Linked DNA regions of Homo sapiens: regions 1, 2 and 3 are each linked to region 4. Evidence: fine-mapped expression QTL. A gene starts in region 4. Each other region holds a variant in brackets. All regions are shown on one strand. Distances are between the middles of the regions.

Region 1 (5,141 bases), 94 kb before region 4:
GGATATGAATGAAAAATTCTCCAGAGAAATGATGTCACAATGAAAAAAATCACTTCTGGAAATGAAAGATACACTTAAAGAAACACAAAATGCATTGGAAAGGTCAACAATAGACTAGAGCAAGTAGAAGAAAGAACTTCAGACCTCAAAGACAAGGCTTCTGAATTAACCCAATCAGACGAAGACAAAGAAAAAAAGAAGTTAAAAATGAACAAACCCTCCCAACAGCTAAACCTAAGAATAACTGATGTTCCTGAGGAAGAAGTGAAATCTAAAAATCTGGAAAACTTGTTTGAGGGAATAATTGAGAAAACTTCCCTGGTCTTGCTAGAGATCTAGGCATCCAAATACAAGAAGCTCAAGGAACACCTGGGAAATTCATCACAAAAAGATCATCACCTAAGCACATAATCATCAGGTTGTCTAAAGTCAAGAATGTTAAGGAAAGGATCTTACGAGCTGTGAGGCAAAAGTATTAGGTAGCCTGTGTAGGAAAACTTTTCAGACTTCTCAGCAGAAACCTGATAAGCCAGAAGGTACTGGGGACCCATCTTTAGCCTCCTGAAACAAAATAATTTTCAGCCAAGAATTTTGTATTCAGTAAAACTAAGCTTCATAAATGAAGGAAAGATAAAGTCTTTTTTCAGACAAACAAATGCTGACAGAATTTGTCACCACTAAACCAGCACTACAAGAAATGCTTAAATGAGCTCTAAATCTTAAAACAAAAGCTCAAAATACACCAAAATATTAATAGAACCTCCTTAAATCATAAATCTCACAGGGCCTATAAAACAATAATACAGTGGGGAAAAAAACAAGGTATTAAGGCAACAACTAATACGATGAATAGAACATCAGTACCTCACATCTCAATACTAACATTGAATGTAAATGGCCCAAATGCTCCACTTAGAAGATACAGAATGGCAGAATGGATAAAAATACACCAACCAACTATCTGCTGCCTTCAAGAGACTCACCTAACACATAAAAACTCACATAAACTTAAGGTAAAGGGATGGAAAAAGACGTTTTACATCAATGGAATCCAAAAGGGAGCAGGAGTAGCTATTCTTGTATCAGACAAAACAGACTTTAAAGTAACAACAGTTTAAAAAGACAAAGAAGGACATTATATAATGATAAAAGGCCTTGTCCAACAGGAAAATACCACAATCCTAACTATATATGCATCTAACACTGGAGCTCCCAAATTTATAAAACAATTACTACTAGACCTAAAAAACAAGACAGACAGCAACACAATAATAGTGGGGGACTTCAGTACTCCACTGACAACACTAGACAGGTCGTCAAGACCAAAAGTCAACAAAGAAACAATGGACTTAAGTCCATTTGCACCAAGGTATAGTTTAACAGATATTTACAGAACATTCTATCCAACAACTGCAGAATATACATTCTTTTCTTCAGCACATGGAACATTCTCCAAGATAGACCATATAATAGGTCACAAAACAAGTCTCAGTAAGTTTTTAAAAATCAAAATTATATCAAGTATCCTCTCAGACCACAGTGGAATAAAACTGAAAACTCCAAAAAGAACCCTCAAAAGTATAAAAAATACATGTAAATTAAATAATCTGCTCTTGAATTATCTTTGGGTCAACAGTAAAATCAAGATGGAAATTTAAAAATTATTTGAGCTGAATAATAGTGACACAACTTTTCAAAACCTCTGGGATACAGCAAAAGTGTTGCTAAGAGAAAAGTTCAGAGCATTAAACACCTACATCAAAAAGGATGAAAGAATGCAAATAGACAATCTAAGGTCACACTTCAAAGAACTAGAGAAACAAGAACAAACAAAAAAAAACTCAGCAGAAGAAAAGAAATAACAAAGATGGGAGAACTAAATGAAATTTAAACTAAAAAAAATAAATGGAACAAAAAGCTGGTTCTTTGAAAAGAGAAACAAAACTGCTAGAACATGAGCAAGATTAACCAAGAAAATAAGAGAGAAAAAATCCAAACAAGCTCAATTAGAAATAAAATGAGAGATATTACAACTGATACCACAGAAATATGAAAGACCATTTAAGGCTACTATGAACACCTTTACACACACAAACTAGAAAATCTAGTGGAGATGGATAAACTCCTGGAAATATACCACCCTCCTAGGTTAAATCAGGAAGAAATAGAACTCTGAACAGGCCAATTACAAGTAGCAAGATTGAAACACTAATTTTAAAATTGCCATACAGGCATGGTGGCTCACAACTGTAATCTCAGCACTTTGGGAGGCCGAGGCAGGTGGATCACCTGAGGTCAGGAGTTCGAGACCAGCCTGACCAAAATGGTGAAACCCCATCTCTACTAAAAATACAAAAAATTAGCCTGGTATGGTGGCAAGCACCTGTAATCCCAGTTACTCAGTAGGCTGCGGCAGGAGAATCCCTTGAACTCAGGAGGCAGACATTGCAGTGAGCCAAGGTCACACCATCGCACTCCAGCCTAGGCAACAAGAGCGAAACTCCGTCTCAAAAAAAAAAAAAAAATTGCCAACAAAGTCAGGTGTGGTGGCTCACAGTAATCCCAACACTCTGGGAGGCCGAGGTGGGTGG[A/C]TCACTAGGTCAAGAGTTCAAGACCAGCCTGGCCAACATGGTGAAACACAGTCTCTACTAAAAATACAAAAAAAATAGCTGGGTGTGGTGGCACGCACCTATAATCCCAAGTATTTGGGAGGCCGAGGCAGGAGAATTGCTTGAACCCAGGAGGCAGATGTCACAGTGAGCCAAGATCATGCCACACTGTGTCCAGAATTGGTTCTTTCCGCTGGGTTCTTGGTCTCACTGACGTCAAGAATGAAGGCGCGGACCCTCATGGTGAGTGCTACAGTTCTTAAAGATGGTGTGTCCGGAGTTTGTTCCTTCAGATCTTCAGATGTGTCTGGAGTTTCTTCCTTCCAGTGGGTTTGCGGTCTTGCCAACTTCAGGAGTGAAGCTGCAGACCTTCGCGATGAGTGTTACAGCTCTTAAAGGTGGTGCGACTGGAGTTTTTTGTTCCTCCTGGTGGGTTCATGGTCTCACTGACTTCAGGAGTGAAGCTGCAGACCTTCGTAGTGAGTGTTACAGCTCATAAAGGTGGTGCATCCGGAGTTACTTGTTCCTCCCGGTGGGTTCATGGTCTTGCTGACTTCAGGAGTGAAGCACAGACCTTCGCAGTGAGTGTTACAGCTCATAAAGGTAGTGTGGCCCCAAAGAGTGAGCAGCAGCAAGATTTATTGTGAAGAGCGAAAGAACAAAGCTTCCACAGCATAGAAGGGGACCTGAGCGGGTTGCCGCTGCTGGCTTGGGTGGCCAGCTTTTATTCCCTTATTTGGCCCCACTCACTTCCTGCTGATTGGTCCATTTTACAGAGTGCTGATTGGTCCATTTTACAGAGTGCTGATCAGTCTGTTTTTACAGAGTGCTGATTGGTGCGTTTACAAACATTTAGCTAGACACAGAGCGCTGATTGGTGCATTTACAAACCTTTAGCTAGACAGAAAAGTTCTCCAAGGCCCCACCCGACCCAGGAGCCCAGACAGCTTCACCTCTCAACAGCACTCCAGCCTGGGTGACAGAGCAAGACTCCATCTCGGAAAAAAAAAAAAAAATTGCCAATGAAAAAAGTCCAGGATCAGATGGATTCACAGTTGAATTCTATCAGACATTCAAAGCAGAATTGGTATCAATCTTACTGAAAATATTCCAAAAGATAGAGAAAGAGGGAATACTCCCTAAATCATTCTATGAAGTCAGTATCACCCTAATTCCAAAACCAGTTAAGGATATAACAAACAAACAAAAAAGAAAGAAAAGAAAACTATAGACCAATATCTCTGATGAACATAGATGCAAAAATCCTCAACAAAATAGTAGCTAACCGAATCCAACAGCATTATCAAAAAGATAATACAGGGGGATTTTGGGATCATGGCAGATGGGGGGCAGGACTAGATTGCAGCTCCAAACAAGGCAGCATGCAGAGGCTTGCATTGTGAATTTTAGCCCAGATTGACTGCAAGAAAAAAACAGCAATCCTTAGAAGACCCAAAGACCCTCTGAAGGAAGCAGACTGCTCCTGTGGGAGCCAGGAGACACCCTAAATACTGTGAGTGCCCCAACTGCATAAGTGAGAAGGGAGATTCTCCTTTCCCAAACACACACCCCCACTAGAGAAGATGAAGGTCTGTTTGCAAGAGAAGTTTCCAACTTTACCTGGAGCTGAGTCAAGTTAGAGAGCTGAGCGAAATACAGGGGTACAGGAAGCACCAGAAAGGCGCTGGGAGCTCACTAGGTCCCCAAGCAGCCCATTCCTGCCTGACACCACAGGAATCCATCGGGAGGGTGGCCAGAGGAGCAGGCGGTTAAACTCCACAAGGAGAAGGAAATCTCTAGCTGAACTTTGTAACAATTTGAAAGGGGTGAGAAGCCTCCTAGCCAGAACTTGTGGGAGGGCATGAATCTGGTGCACAGACTTCACAGGCAAGGGGAAGAACTAAAGCCATTTTCTTTCACAGCTGGGAGGCACAAAGCCTCCAGTAAGTTTTCAAGTCCATCCCGCCCTCTGCCTGGAAACAGACTCAGGGCTGTTGTGGGAGGCACAGTAGGAATGAGAGTGGCCCTTCGGTTTATATGGGAGCTGGGTGAGACCTGTGACTGCTGGCTTTCCCCCACTTCCCTGACAACCTGCATGACTCAGCAGAGGCAGCCATAATCCTCCTAGGTACACAGCTCCAATGACCTGGGAATCTCACTCCCATCCCCCACAGCAGCCACAGCAAGACCCGCCCAAGGAGAGTCTCAGCTCATCACACCAAGCCTCGCCTCCACCTGATAGTCCTTCCCAATCCACCCTAGTAGCAGAAGACAAAGAGAATTTAATCTTGGGACTTCTAGGGTCCCACCCACCACCAGTCCCTCTCCACACTACTACAGCTGATGCTTTCTGGAAAATGCCACCTCCTGGCAGGAGGCCAACCAGCACAAAAATAGAGCATTAAACCATCAAAACTAAGGACCCTAACGGAGTCCATTGCATCCTCCACCACCTCCACTGCAACAGGCGCTGGTATCTGCAGCTGAGAGACCTATAGACAGTTCACATCACAGGACTGTGTGCAGACAACA
Region 2 (5,141 bases), 20 kb after region 4:
TTTCAGTTACATTTAATGATCTACCCTTTATCAATTAAAAGAGATCAAAGAAATTCGTTTTTAGTTTGTCACCATTAACCCACTATGACAGTGGTTCTTAACCTTTTATATATCATAAACATCTTTGAAAAAGTAGCTAAAGTACAGGCCCTTTTTCTAGAACAATGTACCTATACATCATAATTTACAGGCAACTTCAGGGACTCATATAGCTTCCTCCAAAGCCTGAAGTTAAAAACCCTCCATAAGAAAAACAAGACAAAGAATAGTCAACGACAGTGGCAACTTCCAATTTCCTGTCCCCATGTTAGTTTTAAATTTTCAGAGACCAAATGATTTCAAAGCAACAAGTTTGTTCATTTGTGCCTTGGGGACACTTCTCCTCAGTGTAATTAAATGAAACAATAGTTCTGGGAGAATCACTTTCATTTAGTTCCTTAGTCAATAAGAATGAGTTATTCATTATCTGGTAGAAGGAACACAGTTATACCTCTATACTACAAAGGCACTGACTGATATGCAGAGATTGACTCAATTTTTTTTTTTGAGTCCTGTTCTGTCGCCCAGGCTGGAGTGCAATGGTGTGATCTCAGCTCACTGCAACCTCCGCCTCCCAGGTTCAAGCAATTCTCCTGCCCCAGCTTCCTGAGTAGCTGGGATTACAGGCATCCGCCACCATGCCCAGCTAATTTTTGTATTTTTAGTAGAGACGAGATTTTGCCATGTTGGCCAGGCTGGTCTCGAACTCCTGACCTCAAGTGATCTGCCCGCCTCAGCCTCCCAAAAGTGCTGGGATTACAGGCATGAGCCACTGCGCCCAGCCATCAATATTATGCTTTATGACCTCTCTTTGATATAAGACATTTGATACGCAGGTCGTGATTTATCAAACTGGCTCATTACCAAGCAGCCAACCAGGATGGTTAAAGATAAGGATCAGAAGAGGGTCAGAAACAGGTGCTGTGGCTACTGTCCTGCCACAGCACAGGAGGCTTGTATATGCTGGAACCTAAAATTTCCTGACTACTATAGACAGAAATCTCTTACATTGCTAAGGCCAGAGGCCTCATCAGCCTGAAAGGGGAAGGGGCAGTTGTAAAATGCCCAAGGCTCAGAACTTCCACGCAGAAGGACATTACATAGATCCCAGCCCCAGCTCTGAGAATGAGGTGCTAGTGGCAACACGGCATTCATAAGGCAAAGGGAAACCAAGGCACGCAGTACCGAGGCCACTTGAACCACTTGCAGCTGTATGTGCTGAGGCTGCTGGAGGCCAGACGCCGACTGCGACACAGGGATGTACTGAATTCTCTGGTAATCCCCTTGTGGCGTTCGGTAGTCTGTCGTTAAGGTCTGGGACAGTTCTGTCATTGCTTGGGTGAGCAGGTCCGTCGTCACCACAGTCTCTCCAGTGGCGCTGTCTGTAGTCAAAACCGCTGGGGTGGCACTGATCACAGCTGTCGTCAGTGGTGTGTGTATGGTGTTGGAGAGCTGGGCGAACTCTGGATGCTTCTTTCGAATGTGCTGGACCATCTTGGTCTGAAAAAGCAAGGCAAAAAACAAGAATAATTATTAGAATTTGTGATTTTCCGTTTTTCTCATATGTAAATCCTCCAAAGATTCCTAAAGTCTTTTATGTCTTAAAAAAAGAAAAATCAGAGCAACACTGACTCTATGCCTGTACTTCCTGGGGTAACATAATGCTATGAAAGCAGGGAAGAGGGTGGGGAAGAAGTAAAACCTCACCTGACCTCACACCATCAGCAAGGTCTCAATACCCCCCCCAAATAGTACCTGCAGCAATCAATCACAATCCCCCCAGCCAAAATGACCTCCTTTGTAAAGCCACCACGTAACTTTCTATGTGGTGCTTCCAAAAGCCTGAACTCACCAACTGCAAGCACAGAACATTCAAACGTGAGGCCCTCCGCAGGCCAAGGGAAAAGGAAAACAGCCAGCTGCTCGGGCTGCTGTACGGCACTAATTCTGGGGAGGTCCACAGTATCCTCTTTCCATTCTCTGCTGTGCTCTCTGTTTACAGTGACTAGGACAACATCTCTTTCAGTCCCCCGTCAACTCAGAAGGAGCCATCCAGGCCATGTGGATGAGAAGCCACCTTTCCTTAAGAGATTCCTCGCATGGCGGTTTTGACCTTAGCTTTAGTCAGAAACTCCCCCTACCTTGCTGCTGTACTGCTTGGAGCAGTGGGGACAGCAGACGGGAGGGGTGGCGATGGTGCC[C/T]GTCAGCTGGGTGTGTGTGCTCAGCATGGGGTCTGGCTCTCCAGGACCAGCGGGTCGGAGCTTCCGAATGCTCGGTGGGAGCTCTGCTCCTGGGTGGTTCTTCAGAATGTGGGCTTTGCGCTTGCTGGCACTTTTATAAACCTGCAAATGTAAGCGCCTTGCCATGAAAGCAGTATACAGTTCCACTTTCTTGCTTAAAGCAAACTAACAATTTCATTATAAGAAAATGAGGAAAAGTATTCATGTAGCCCCAAATAAAATATATTAATATGTATATTAACAGATCTATTGAAGAGCAAGGATATACTACAAATTAGAATAAAATAAGAACATAATGTAGATATGATAGGTTTCTTTCTTTAATCTATAAATCTAAGATAATAACTGTGAAAATACCCTTTATCCTAAAGTTTAAAATTTGGATATGATACACAGACAGAGGAAGATAATTGTTTTTAAGGCCCATCCACCTCATATGAGAGCTGCCTGTGAAAGCTCTCATATGATGTACGCAGCTGAAGACCAGGAGCCAGAGAATCTTCCAAATGGCAACGTCAATAGCAACTGCTATCTATAGTGGGGAATCTATGTTAAAAAATGTTTCTCACTTTTAAGCTGATATAGCTACATTATATAAGGAAAGGATGGCTGGGTGTGGTGGCTCATGCCTATAATCCCAGCACTTTGGGAGGCCGAGGCGGGCGATCACCTGAGGGTGGATCATCCTGGCCAACATGGTGAAACCCTGTCTCTACTAAAAATACAAAAATTAGTTGGGCGTGGGGGCTGGCGCCTGTAATCCCAGCTACTCCAGAGGCAGAGGCAGGAGAATCGCTTGAACCCAGGCGGAAGTTGCAGTGAGCTGAGATCATGCCACTGCACTCCAGCCTGTGTAACAGAGCAAGACTCCATCTCAAAAAGTAAGAAAGGATATTACAGTGGAATAATAAATATATATTCTGTGTCTTTTCTGTAACTACATGAAAATAATGCAATAGTACAAGTAGAGTACTCCACCACAAAGCTTTCCCAACCCCCTCCACCTTATAGAAACCCCAAAACTACCATATATGTTATAGGTCATGATAAATGCTCTCATTTTAGAGCCTAGGAATTTGAAATTAATTCATACACTAAGCACTAGTAATAAACCTCTTCTTGTGTAACAAAAATCACAGAGAGAAGGGACAGTAAGAAAAATGAAGTCAACTATTTCTTAAGAAAAAAATTTGGCTTAAAATAAGGCTGTATTTCTAGTCCTTTCTTGTCTGAATGGAGACTACTGAGAGACAGGTAACCATCTGGTAAGAGTAACAAAAAAATCGTAGTATATATTTATAAATACGGACAAGTCAGCTCTAAGCAGGGAACCCCAGTGGCATACCAATATGAATATTTCCCTTTTACCTTATCGCAATACTGACAAAAGTAATCACGATTGGGTTTTATGATGGGTAGAGTTAACTCTGGCACCTCTTCTATCTTCATGTCTGGGTGTCTCTTCGATAAGTGATTTACCTAAAGGGAAAAGAAAGAACCAATGAGAAAAAGAGACCCCATTAACCAAACAGAAGCTACACGAATGCCTCTGATAATGACCGCCAGAAGCTGGAATTCTCTGAAGCAATGCCCCCAAATAATAAGGCATTTGGCCAGAACCAGGATCACCAGACCCCATCTGATGCCAAAGCACTCACAGTCATGGTTAACAGGAGTTAACAATAATTCACCAAACAATTGAAGGTGACTCACTGTGGTGAATTCAGCCATCAACAGTCTTTGGCTGAAAGAACTACTATTGGAAAAAGGAAAATTACACTGGTATGAATTTCTTTGGTGAGTTCTCCTCATGCAAACCTGTCTTTCATTATTTAATGCCCTAGTCTTACTAAGAACATGGAATGAGATACAGACTAAGGTTCTGAATTTTAAATATTGCTCTATGACTTTCCAGCACCTGGCAGAAATATATTCTGCACCCGTAACAAGGTCAAAATGAGTTGAGAGCAGAGCACTGGCTGTCTGATGCTTCAGCTAACCTGGATGCACATACCCTGCTTTGACGGAAAGCTTCCTTCTACTGCTGTTTGATATCTGGAAAAGAGAGGCATTAAAAGGAAACAGCTGGGGGCTGGGTGCAGTGGCTCACGCCTGTAATCCCAGCATTCTGGGAGGCTGAGGCAGGTGGATCACCTGAGGTCAGGAGTTTGAGACCAGCCTTGCCAAAATGGTGAAACCCCGTGTCTACTAAAAATACAAAAATTAGCCAGGCATGGTGGTGGGCACCTGTAATCCCAGCTACTCAGGAGGCTGAAGCAGGAGAATCGCTTGAACCTGGGAGGGGGAGGTTGCAGTGAGCTGAGATCACGCCATTTCACTCCAGCCTGGGCAACAGGAGCGAAATTCTGTCTCAAAAATAAATAAATAAAATAAAAGGGAACAGCTGGGGAGAAGGCAAATACCCCATTAAAAAAATACATTCAGGGACACAAAAGAGGGAACTAAAATAAGGTGAGAGCAGAGATTGAGATGGGTAAAGAAAAACAAAAGTAGTAATGAAAAGTGATTAAAAAAAAAAAAAGAAAAAGAAAAAGACCTCTTACAAGAATTGATCCAAAAAGCAGCAAGAGAGAGCAAAGGGAGACTAGAAAAGACAGAACTCCAAATTGGGAATCGTTTGCCTCTGTTTCTTCCCCTGGACATTGACAAAACCATTGATCGATATAACTTAGGACACAATGCAACACAAACGTCACCATCATCGACAGCAATGAGGTATGCTGGGAAGACAGAGGAACCCGCAGCCACTGGGCACTGACCAGCATGCCGCGCCGCCGGAAGCCCATCATGCACAGGCGGCACTTGAACGTGAAGCTGTCGTAGTCTGTGGACGTGATGCGG
Region 3 (5,141 bases), 36 kb after region 4:
GTACAGGTTGCAAAGAACAGCAGGTCAGGCAAACAAGTAACATTCTGTTATGTGAAACACAGGAAACAAACCTACCTGCAGCTCCAACTGAGCAGGCAGCATTAGAGGAGAGAAAAATAGTTACATTACCAATTGGATTGGAAGACTTCCCTTCAGTTGGTCATTACCAATCTGGATAGAAAAGATGAAAAAATACATAGCCCTACTTTTTAGAATGTGTGAGAGAAAAAAAAACAAAATAGCTCAACTAAGACTGACCTCCAAAAGCCAGATACATATGGCTTTCGCTTTGACACAAGGAACCTTGCACCAAAACCAGTAACCCTGCTCATTCAAAAATGCAAGTACAATTACGGCTGGACTGTGTTTGTGCATCCACAACTTCACTGCATGTGTGGGCTTCGGTTTTTTTTTTTCCTTCCAAAAAAAAAAAAAAAATCTAGCAAGGGTTTCTCTGGACTTAGTAAAAAAAATCAGAATGGCCAAAGCAGAAAATATAGTAATTGAGCAAGAGAAAGAAGTGCAGATTAGGAACTAAAGGAGAAGGATGGATGGGATATTACTTCATAGCTTGTTTTCCTTGCTGGCCTGTATTTCTGTATGTTGATATACTCTTGTGAAATAATATACAGTGAGCTGAGAGTTTCATATGTTTCGATTACAGGGCTCTCATAAAGGCTGTTTAGCCTCAGTTCTTAGAGCCCTTCAAAGCTATCATATGACTACAAATGTTTAAATGTGTTTTTACATGAAGGCATGGACTAGACTATTTTTCAAGGTCCCTTCTAGCCTAGAGGCAAATAAGAAGACCAAAAGAAACATACGCTGAACGATCATGCATGTAGAAATTGTAAAGCCTGGGAAGTTATACAAAATGTCTCTTTCATCTACTGGAAAGTACCAATATGTCTTTATGCACTCAGCTGCCATAAACATGGGTTGTAAGTCATTGGTTTTTATCAGCACAGACACTTATCCCACAAAGCCATATTGTTTTCCACACGAATCCCCTGCAGTTCCTAACTCAGAGTCAAATGCTATTTGTGAAATAATAAGAGAAAACGCATCTGAACTGCAAGTCAGGAAAGCCCTGCAGCCGCATGGTCTGAGGCCAAGACACAGGTCCCGTGACTCAGACACTGACTAACTCTCGAACTGACAGCTTTGGCTCAAGCTATCCGCAGGTGTGTGAACTGTACCTGCCATATCAACTTGGACACAGGTCACTTTACATTGATGAGTAATGACATTTGCCATTCTCCCCTGGGAAGCTGTAGATAAGCACATTTAGTTACCCAAAATCAACTTGAGAGCTATGATTAGGCACAAATTAGCCTGGTTTAAAATATAAATGATTATTATAACTAAATGTACTTATTTCTCCACTTCCAATCTGTGAATTGAGGGATGCAGAGAGCTAGTCCAGGAGCTGCCAACCTCTAGGCCTCTGTGTCGTCACTAAATTGGTCAAATCTAGGACCAGCCATGCCAGCCTGCCATGGGACACAGAGACATTGAGAAATAGTGAACACTTTCTTTCAAAATAAGGGGATCGAGCATGTGACAGGCTAGATGCAAGATTTCAGAGAGGAAGGTGAATAGGTTAGAAAACCACCAGAGAGCTGGTGGTGGGAGGAAGATGAGCGGCTGGTGCCAGGAGCCGCCGGCTTTCCCCACTTACTCGGATGCGCTTGGCTCTGCGCATGTCGTCGGCTGTCAGCGTGCTCTGGGTGGGCACCACGCTCTCTTCATGCTGCGGCTGCAGGTGCAGGGTGTGAGTTTCTGGTTCATGTTCCAGGGAAGACTGGGTTTCCTGTGGCAGCTGAGGGATTGGGATAGTGGTCTGTTCTGGTTGATCCAGCCCATTCAGAGTGGCTGGTTCAGCCTCATCAAATTGCTCCTTTGTGGGAAAATGTAGCAAGTCCTGAAATTTGCAATAACCAGGAATAGAGATCAGTGCCGGAGGGACTGTCAGCTCAGATTTAGAATTGCTGCTTATTTCAGAATGACTAGATTCATAATACTCAGAAAAAATATTCTCCCTCTGGGAAAGTTAATTAGGTAACTATGCACAGAAGGCAAAAGCAGGAGAGGTTCCACACCACTTAACAAGGAAAAGACTGTGATCTGACTTTTCTGGAATATCAATAATTTTAATTGTTTAAACTAATTAAACAAAGTCCACCTCTACTAACTCTGGTCAATTTTATTTATTTATTTATTTTTATTTTATTTTATTTT[A/T]TTTTTTTTTTGAGACGGAGTCTCGCTCTGTCCCCAGGCTGGAGTGCAGTGGCGCGATCTCGACTCACTGCAAGCTCCGCCTCCCGGTTCACGCCATTCTCCTGCCTCCGCCTCCCGAGTAGCTGGGATTGCAGGCGCCCGCCACTGCACCCAGCTAATTTTTTTTGTATTTTTAGTAGAGACGGGGTTTCACCGTGTTAGCCAGGATGGTCTCGATCTCCTGACCTCGTGATCCGCCCACCTCGGCCTCCCAAAGCGCTGGGATTACAGGCATGAGCCACTGCGCCTGGCCAAGTCCGGTCAATTTTAAATCTTTAGAGCAGCAAAGTTGGGTTTTTGTTGTAGGTAACACTTGAAAATACATTCTTTTCTGGCATTATCCAATCATTCTTTAATTAACAGGCAGCAAGGTCTGATAGGAAAGGTCTACAAACATTGGGAAGGTCTTTGTACTTAGGTCTCGTCAGGGATCTGGCGAGTCCTCCACACAAGCACCTAAGGAGGGCTCCTTCCCGTCCCCCCGTACCTGTGTCCCATCGTCACTCTTTTCCCCATTTTCGCTGGTGATTTCCAGGCGGATAAATTTTGGAGGACGCCCCGGCCGTCGACCTGGACCGAATCGCCTCTTGCCTCGTCCCCTTCCTCTGCCTCTTGTTCTGGGGACAAGAGATTGGGTTACAGGTCGTCATGGTTACATAATACTCCATAACAAGTAGCGACCTAAATGATCCTTACTAACCCCAGAGTTTGATTCCTCTCACCTTATTACTTTCCCAGATTTTCTCCAATAGAAACAACTGTTTTACTAATATACACTTTCTGAATGTCTCATCCTTCCCCTCTATTACAGCTTAAAGATATGTCTTCAATTATTCTGAAGAAAAGAGCTATAAAAATTCAAAGCACTGACAATATTTTGCTTCTGAAATGATGTGAGAAAGGCAGACAGGACAGAACATGCTAAGCCTTTGAGCGTGTTCCCAGGAGATGTCATCTGAGACAAGATTCCCATTATTTCTCTCTTTTTCCCCTGGCCTCGCCTCATATTCCTTCCAAGAAATGTGGCCAAATTCAAACAACTTTCTTGTTTTACTACAAGCTTCTGGAAGGTCAGAACAAATTTCTAATTCAATTGTTTCATAACATGCCTAGTAAACATCAATTAACTTTTGCATCCCCTTTAATGGACTTTTTTTTTTTCTCTTTTTGAGGCTAGGTCTTGCTCTGCTACCCAGGCTGGAGTGCAGTGATGTAATCATGGCTCACTGTGGCCTCAACCACCTGGGCTCAAGCGATCCTCCCACCTCAGCGTCCCAAGTAGCTGGGACTACAGGCATGTGGCACCACGCCCAGCTAATTTTATTTAATTTTTTGTAGAGATGGGGTTTCACCGTGTTGCCTGGGCTGGTCTGGAACTCAAGCAATCCTCCCTCTTGGGCCTCCCAAAGTGCGGGGATTACAGGCATGAGCCACCATGCCTGGCATGAATTGCCAACAAACACAAATTCCTTAATAAAAGAGGCTTAAAAAAGTAGGTTATGAAAGCTTCTTTTAGAAGATATGTATGTGGGAAGTGTACAATGTCAATCAGATCAAATTTTATTCTTCCACTCATCCATTTAATAATTTAACAAATACTATATATTTTTTCCAGGAACTTTTAAAAGACTCTTCATGTTGGAAAATTCTGAACCTAGGTGAATGTAGAGACTAGCACGATGAGCCCAATGTACCCATAACCCAATTCCAACATTTTTCAAACCATGGCCAACATTTTCCATCTATATCCCCACCACTTGCCCACACACATACCCAGTAGATGACTTGGAAGCAAATCCCAGATATCTTTTCATCTCTAGATATCTTGGCATGTCTCTCTGAATCATAAGAACTCTTTATATATATATGACCACAATACCATTATCACACCTGAGAAATATCTGAGAGTTGCTGAGTATTATTATATCTAGTCAAAGTTCAAATCTTCCTAGTTGTCCCAGGTTTCTCTTAACAGTTGGCTAACAAACATATTACCTACTGTGTATCACATACTGGGCTAGGCACTAAGGACATCAGATTACAGGCAACAGATTTTACCCTCAGGGGTCTAGAAAAGGGAGCTGGCATATAAACCAAAAATCACAATATAATATAAAAAATGCTACAATAGAGCCATGAACAGAGTTTTGGAGATTCCCAGGAGTGACTCAAATCTCACTGTGTCCACCCCCTCCTTAGACATTTACCCCTGTGGTCACATTCTAGACCCTGTCACCCTTGTAAGCCTCTTCATGCCAATCCCATGCACTGCCCACTCGGACACTACCCTGGCTCTGTAGTTTACTCCCTCTAGTACCCAGCACTCAGCAACCCTTCAGCCACGCGAGCATCTCCAGTTCAATCCTTCCGGTGCTTTCGTGCAGCTCTGCATCACTGCCTTGATGTTCTCTCCCCTTCTTCCACAGCATACGCTCCAAGGTCATCCACTGGAACCACTCCCTCGTGCGTGCTCTCAGTTCCCATCCCATGGCTGCTCTGTTTTCTCAATGTGTGTTATGAGCACTTGGCAAAGCCACAACCCTGTGTAATTCAATTCCCTGCCTGCTCTGCACCAGCATCCCTGCAGCTGAATGAAGCTGGAGAAAACGCACAGCCATGCTAGTGGGCTCACTTTCATTTCATAACCATGAACCCCAAGTGGGCATTTAATAGAGTGGGCAATTGTATGGTACTTCCCTAGAACATTCGCTTTCCCACTTACCCAACTACCATCTCACACATCTCCTCTCTTTCCAAACCCTAGAAAAGCTGGCAACCCTACATCTGTCCCCCTGGCATGAGCCTACTCCAAACCACCCTCATTCCTCCCCCAAACTATTGTGATAGATGCTAACAGGACT
Region 4 (4,918 bases):
TCACACCTACAATCTCAGTACTTTGGGAGGTCCAGGCGGGCAGTCCCCTTGAATCCATGAGTTTGAGACCAGCCTAGCGAACATGGCAAAACCCCTTCTCTACAAAAAAAAAAAAAAAAAAAAATCAGCCAGGCGTGGTGGCGCACGCCTGTAGTCCCAGCTACTCAGAAGGCTGAGGTGGGAGGATCGCTTGAACACGAGATGCAGAGGGTACAATAAGCCGTGATCACGCTACTGCACTCCAGCCTGGGCAACAGAGACCCTGTCTCAAAAAAAAAAAAAAAGGAAAGGAAAAAGAGAAAGAATATTGTTTGTTGTTCTTTCACAAAAGAAAATTTGCTGAAAATCAACATACACTAGTAAAATGCAAATGCTAACAGTCACTTTATGAGGGCCTATTAAAAGCCAGGCCTTTCACATATCTCATTTAATTCCTACAACTGTGCAAAGTAAGGTCATGGGTTATTACATCGGAATTAAAACTGAAAATCAGAGTAGGTCAGTAACTTGCCCAACCCCAGAGGCAGTACTGAAACTCAGGTCTACCTGCCTGCAAACCCATGTGCTTAATGCTACACACAATACCTCTTGTATAACCTCGCAACATTTAAATAATAAAAACGAACCTTACTGATATGACTTTATTAGTCCATATAAATTCCTGAGGTTCCACACACCTGACCATAACCACCAGTAAAGTCAATGGCCAATCTGCCTTTAGTTGGTCCATTTGATCCGTATAATCATGTAAATTAATGCTACTTTTCTCCTTCGTGTAATAACAGAACACTGCTGATCACCTTCAGAAAACTACATACCACAACATTTTCAGACTGATGGCTGGGATTAGGGGTCAAGTTGATAGCACAGGACTGCACAATGCTAACAGGACCACAGGGAGCTTAAACTCAATCACTCTACCAACATTTACTAAATCCATCCTTTCCAGCTCCTATTCCTACAAAGTGGGCTAAAAAGCATACTAAAATGAAAAGAAAAAAGGATGTTAACAGTCAAAACACCAGAATTCCATATTCCACATTCCACAAACACCACATTCCACAAATCTTACCACGCCAGGTGTCAATTTCCTTATTTGAGGAAGGGAAGCTGGACCAGGTCCTCCCTCCCGTTATTTCCAATTCTGGAATCCTGCAATGAATAATCTCTAGATGAGTGACAGTGTGAATTACGTAATACAGGTACTTTTCTTTTCCAAAATTCTCCAATGATAAAGAACAGTTCTAGAATAACTATATGTAAAATGAAGCATGTTCCACTAAATTATTTCAAGCTCCCTTGAAGAGATTTCAGATCCATGTAAAGATATAGCAGAAACTTAAGCGTTGAGTCAAGTCACGTGGGTGGTCCCCAAGCAACTGTGCCCCCTCATCACCCTTCAGCACATGGTGAAATGACATCCTCATCATGCCTATGCCTAAATAAGTGAAGCGGGTGAGACAGCACATAGCATGTGAGTTTAACAAAACTTCAAAATAGCACCAAAAAAAAATTGCAGAAGCAACCTGATGCTCAGAATAAAACCTTCTTAACAGAACTGGCATAGAACAGACTATCAACTGCAAAGTCAGTGTCCTACCTGCCTCTTAGGAGGTCTCTATACAACTTGCTCACAAGTTTCTTCAGTGACGGTGCGTGTCTAGCTAAAGTTAATCTAGTCCACTGACAACCTTTGCACTGCCACTATTCTGAACAGAATCTCAAAATACCAAAACCAGGCAGCTGCCAGGGAGTTGGACCCCGGAAGCCAAGGATTTCCAGATCTTCGGGCGTTCTGAACCTCTTCACTAGACCACGAAGGCCTCTCGGCCTCTCATCACTGGCTTTCAGCACCTGGTCTAACTTTCCCCGCTGGACCCTCCCCAACGCAGAAGCTAAACCCTCGGGTCCTTCCAGAGCAACCGCCGGCTCCAAAGCCCTCAACTCTGCAGCAAATTCCCCTCCGGTGCCAGCCCGGCTGGCCCAAGGCCCGGGTCCAATCCTCAGAACTGCACGGCTCGGCCCCGCCCCTCCCCCACGCCGTGCCTAACCCTAACCCCCAGCCTCACGCGTCGCACCGCTCCCCACGCCCCGCTCCCGCTCCCCACGCCCACACGGGCAGCGACCTCGCGGACCCAGCCGCCCGCTCCCGCTCCCTCCACTCCCAGGAGACACTTCAACCCTTTCGCCGCCCCTTGCCCGCCCTCACCTGAACCGCGGGCGCCGGCCCCCTAACCCGCAGCCCTTCTCCGGCCGCGGGCTCCCAGACGCACTCGCTCCCGCAAGGAGTCTGGGTGCGCGCACGCTCTGGGCCTGCGCGGCGGAAGGGGCGGGGCAGCGCGGGGCGGGGCCTGGAGGGTGCCGGGGCGGGGCCACAGCGGGCGGGTCCTGGAGCGGCTCGGGAGAGCGGAGGGTCGGCGAGGGTGCCTGCGCGCGGCTGGGCCTGGGGATGCAGGTTCCAGCCTGCTTGCGCGTCTCACCTGATTTAGGAGCTTCCAGAGGCCCCAGACAGTGCCTGTCTTTGCCTGACCGCGAATCAAAGTTCCATAGCCCGTGAGCGAAGGCACGTCTATTAGCTGACGTTTGCAGAGAGCATACCCTGCCCCAGGCCCTATGCTAAGCACTTTCTACCCACCGTCTTTGTGCTGCAGCCCTGTGAGCTATGCACTATTAGTGCCCATTTTACAGTTGAGGACATGAGTAGAACGCGACCTCAGCCTGTGCTTCCGAGTTCCTTCATTCCTCCTTCCCGTCCCCGGGCCCTCGATGTCCAGAAAGAATGTAAACACATCGAAGGATCACATTTTAAAGTTAAACTCCATCATTTTCCTCTTCTTAGATATGAAGGCCCCTTTCCTGTTATTCACTGGGTTTTGCTTAGTACGGCTTCACACTACTTATTCCAGGTACTCCCAGCAGTGGCGCAGAGACCATCCTCAGTTCTGTGTGTGGATGGGACCAGAGAAGCCGGCCGGCCGAGCTAATGTTCTTCCCTTCCTGGAAGAGAGTAGTTTCCAAACAACCCGATCTCTGTTCCTCTACTGGCTCCACATATGCTCTAAGTTCCTGTTACACTGTTGAGAGGCTCTTGAATTAGAAACTATCGAGTATAAATGGCAGTGGAATATCACTCTATAGTTGTCACCGATATTTCCCTTACCTTGAGATTGTGACAAGACCAGAAAGAGAAAAAGAGTAAAAACAATGTAAACTATAATTTTTGATAGACTTTGTTTTTTTAAAGTGGTTTAAAGTTAACAAAATTGAGCAGAAAGATATTTTCCAAATACTCCCCGCCCCACCTCCCCACATGCATCGCCTTCCCTTTATCAACATCCTCTACCAGAGTGGTACATTTCTTAGAACTGATGAACCCGGCCCGGCCTGGTGGCTCACGCCTGTAATCCCAACACTTTGGGAGGCCGAGGCGGGCGGATCCCGAGATCAGGAGATCGAGACCATCCTGGCCAACATGGTGAAACCGCGTCTCTACTAAAAATACAAAAATTCGCCGGTCGTGGTGGCGGGCACCTGTAGTCCCAGCTACTCGGGAGCTGAGGCAGGAGAATTGCTTGAACCGGGGAGGCGGAGGTTGCAGTGAGCCGAGATTGAGCCATTGCACTCCAGCCTGTCGACAGAGCGAGACAGAGCGAGACTCCATCTCAAACAAAAGAACTGATGAACCTACATTGATACATCATTACCCACCATCACAGTATAATGCAGAGTAATTTCACTGTCTTAAAAATCATCTGTGCTCTGCATATTCATCTCTCCCTCTCCTCTACCCCTGGCAACCGCTGATCTTTTTGTCTCCATAGTTTTGCCTTTTTCCAGAGTGTCATCTAGTTGGAATTACATAGTATGTAGCCGTTTCAGATTGGCTTCCTTCCCGTAGTAACAGGCATTGAAGTTTCCTCCATGTCTTTTCATGGCTTGATAGCTCCTATTTCTTTTTAGTGCTGAATAATATTCCATTGTGTCGATATATCACAGTTTTATCTATTCGCTTACTGAAAGATATCTTCATTGTTTCCAGGTTTTGGCAATTATGAATCAAGCAATTATGAATCAAACAACCCAGAAATCCAACCACCCACTCCAGGCATCTTTGCATGAACGTATCAAAAACACCTCAGTCCCAATGCCCAGGATCTTCCCCTTTGAGAGGCTGAGATGGGTGGATCACTTGAGCCCAGGAATTGGAGACCAGCCTGGGCAATATGGTGAAACCCCATCTCTACTAAAATAAATACAAAAAATTAGCCAGGTGTGGTGGCACGTGCCTGTAGTCCCAGCTACTCAGGAGACTGAGGTGGGAGAATCGCTTGAGCCAGGGAGATCGAAGCTGCCGTGAGCTGTGATTGCACCACTGCACTCCAGCCTGGGCAACAGAGTGAAACCCTGTCTCAAAAAAGTAAAAAGAAAAATAAAACAACAAAGAATAAGTAAGACTTTTCCTTTACCTTCATTATTAAAGGTAATAATGATGTTCTTTCTTTATATAGATCTGAGGTTCTGACTTTTATCATTTTTCTTCTCTCTGAAAAACTTAACATTCTCTCCAAGGCAGGTCTACTGGCAACAAATCCCCTTTGCTTTTGGGGGATAATTTCATGGGCTACAGCATTCTAGGTTAGACACTGCTTTTTTCTCTCAACACCTTAAACATTTCATTCCACTCGCTCCTTGTGTGCACAGTTTCTGAAGAAAAGTCATTTTTTGTTCATTTGTTTTTTGGTTTTGAAGGATTTTTTTGCATTTATCCTGTGTGTCCTCTGAGCTTCCCGGATCTGTGGTTTCATCTTCCATATTGATTTGGGGAAATAATCAATCATTATTGCTTCAAATATTTCTTCTGTTCCTTTCTCTGTCTTCTGCTAGTATTCCCATGAGGCATAGTTATACCTTTTTTTCA

Evidence for each region. PIP is the estimated chance that this variant, and not a neighbour inherited with it, causes the effect. A credible set is the group of variants that fine-mapping cannot tell apart.
Region 1: its variant is the best candidate, but not a certain one, in a credible set for the expression of NFRKB in blood mononuclear cells (TOPMed, PIP 0.61).
Region 2: its variant is the best candidate, but not a certain one, in a credible set for the expression of NFRKB in whole blood (INTERVAL, PIP 0.86).
Region 3: its variant is the best candidate, but not a certain one, in a credible set for the expression of NFRKB in whole blood (INTERVAL, PIP 0.76).

Annotation. Positions count from the first base shown.
Region 1 is chr11:129,799,048-129,804,188 of GRCh38, forward strand. All of the region lies in intron 1 of LOC124902793 (a long non-coding RNA gene), which reads right to left. Among named protein-coding and RNA genes, the nearest start is that of TMEM45B, 14 kb to the right of the region's middle. RefSeq lists an enhancer at 4,451-4,951. The variant A/C (reference allele first, on the strand shown) is at 2,592.
Region 2 is chr11:129,913,480-129,918,620 of GRCh38, forward strand. It overlaps PRDM10 (PR/SET domain 10), which reads right to left. Exons shown (of 21, transcript NM_199437.2): 14 at 5,060-5,141; 15 at 3,648-3,758; 16 at 2,181-2,381; 17 at 1,225-1,539. Among named protein-coding and RNA genes, the nearest start is that of NFRKB, 20 kb to the left of the region's middle. The variant C/T (reference allele first, on the strand shown) is at 2,241.
Region 3 is chr11:129,929,335-129,934,475 of GRCh38, forward strand. PRDM10 (PR/SET domain 10) reads right to left here. Exons shown (of 21, transcript NM_199437.2): 10 at 2,768-2,897; 11 at 1,682-1,924. Among named protein-coding and RNA genes, the nearest start is that of NFRKB, 36 kb to the left of the region's middle. The variant A/T (reference allele first, on the strand shown) is at 2,242.
Region 4 is chr11:129,893,287-129,898,204 of GRCh38, forward strand. NFRKB (nuclear factor related to kappaB binding protein) reads right to left here and starts at 2,292. Exons shown (of 27, transcript NM_001143835.2): 1 at 2,210-2,292; 2 at 1,073-1,152. RefSeq lists a silencer at 2,009-2,448.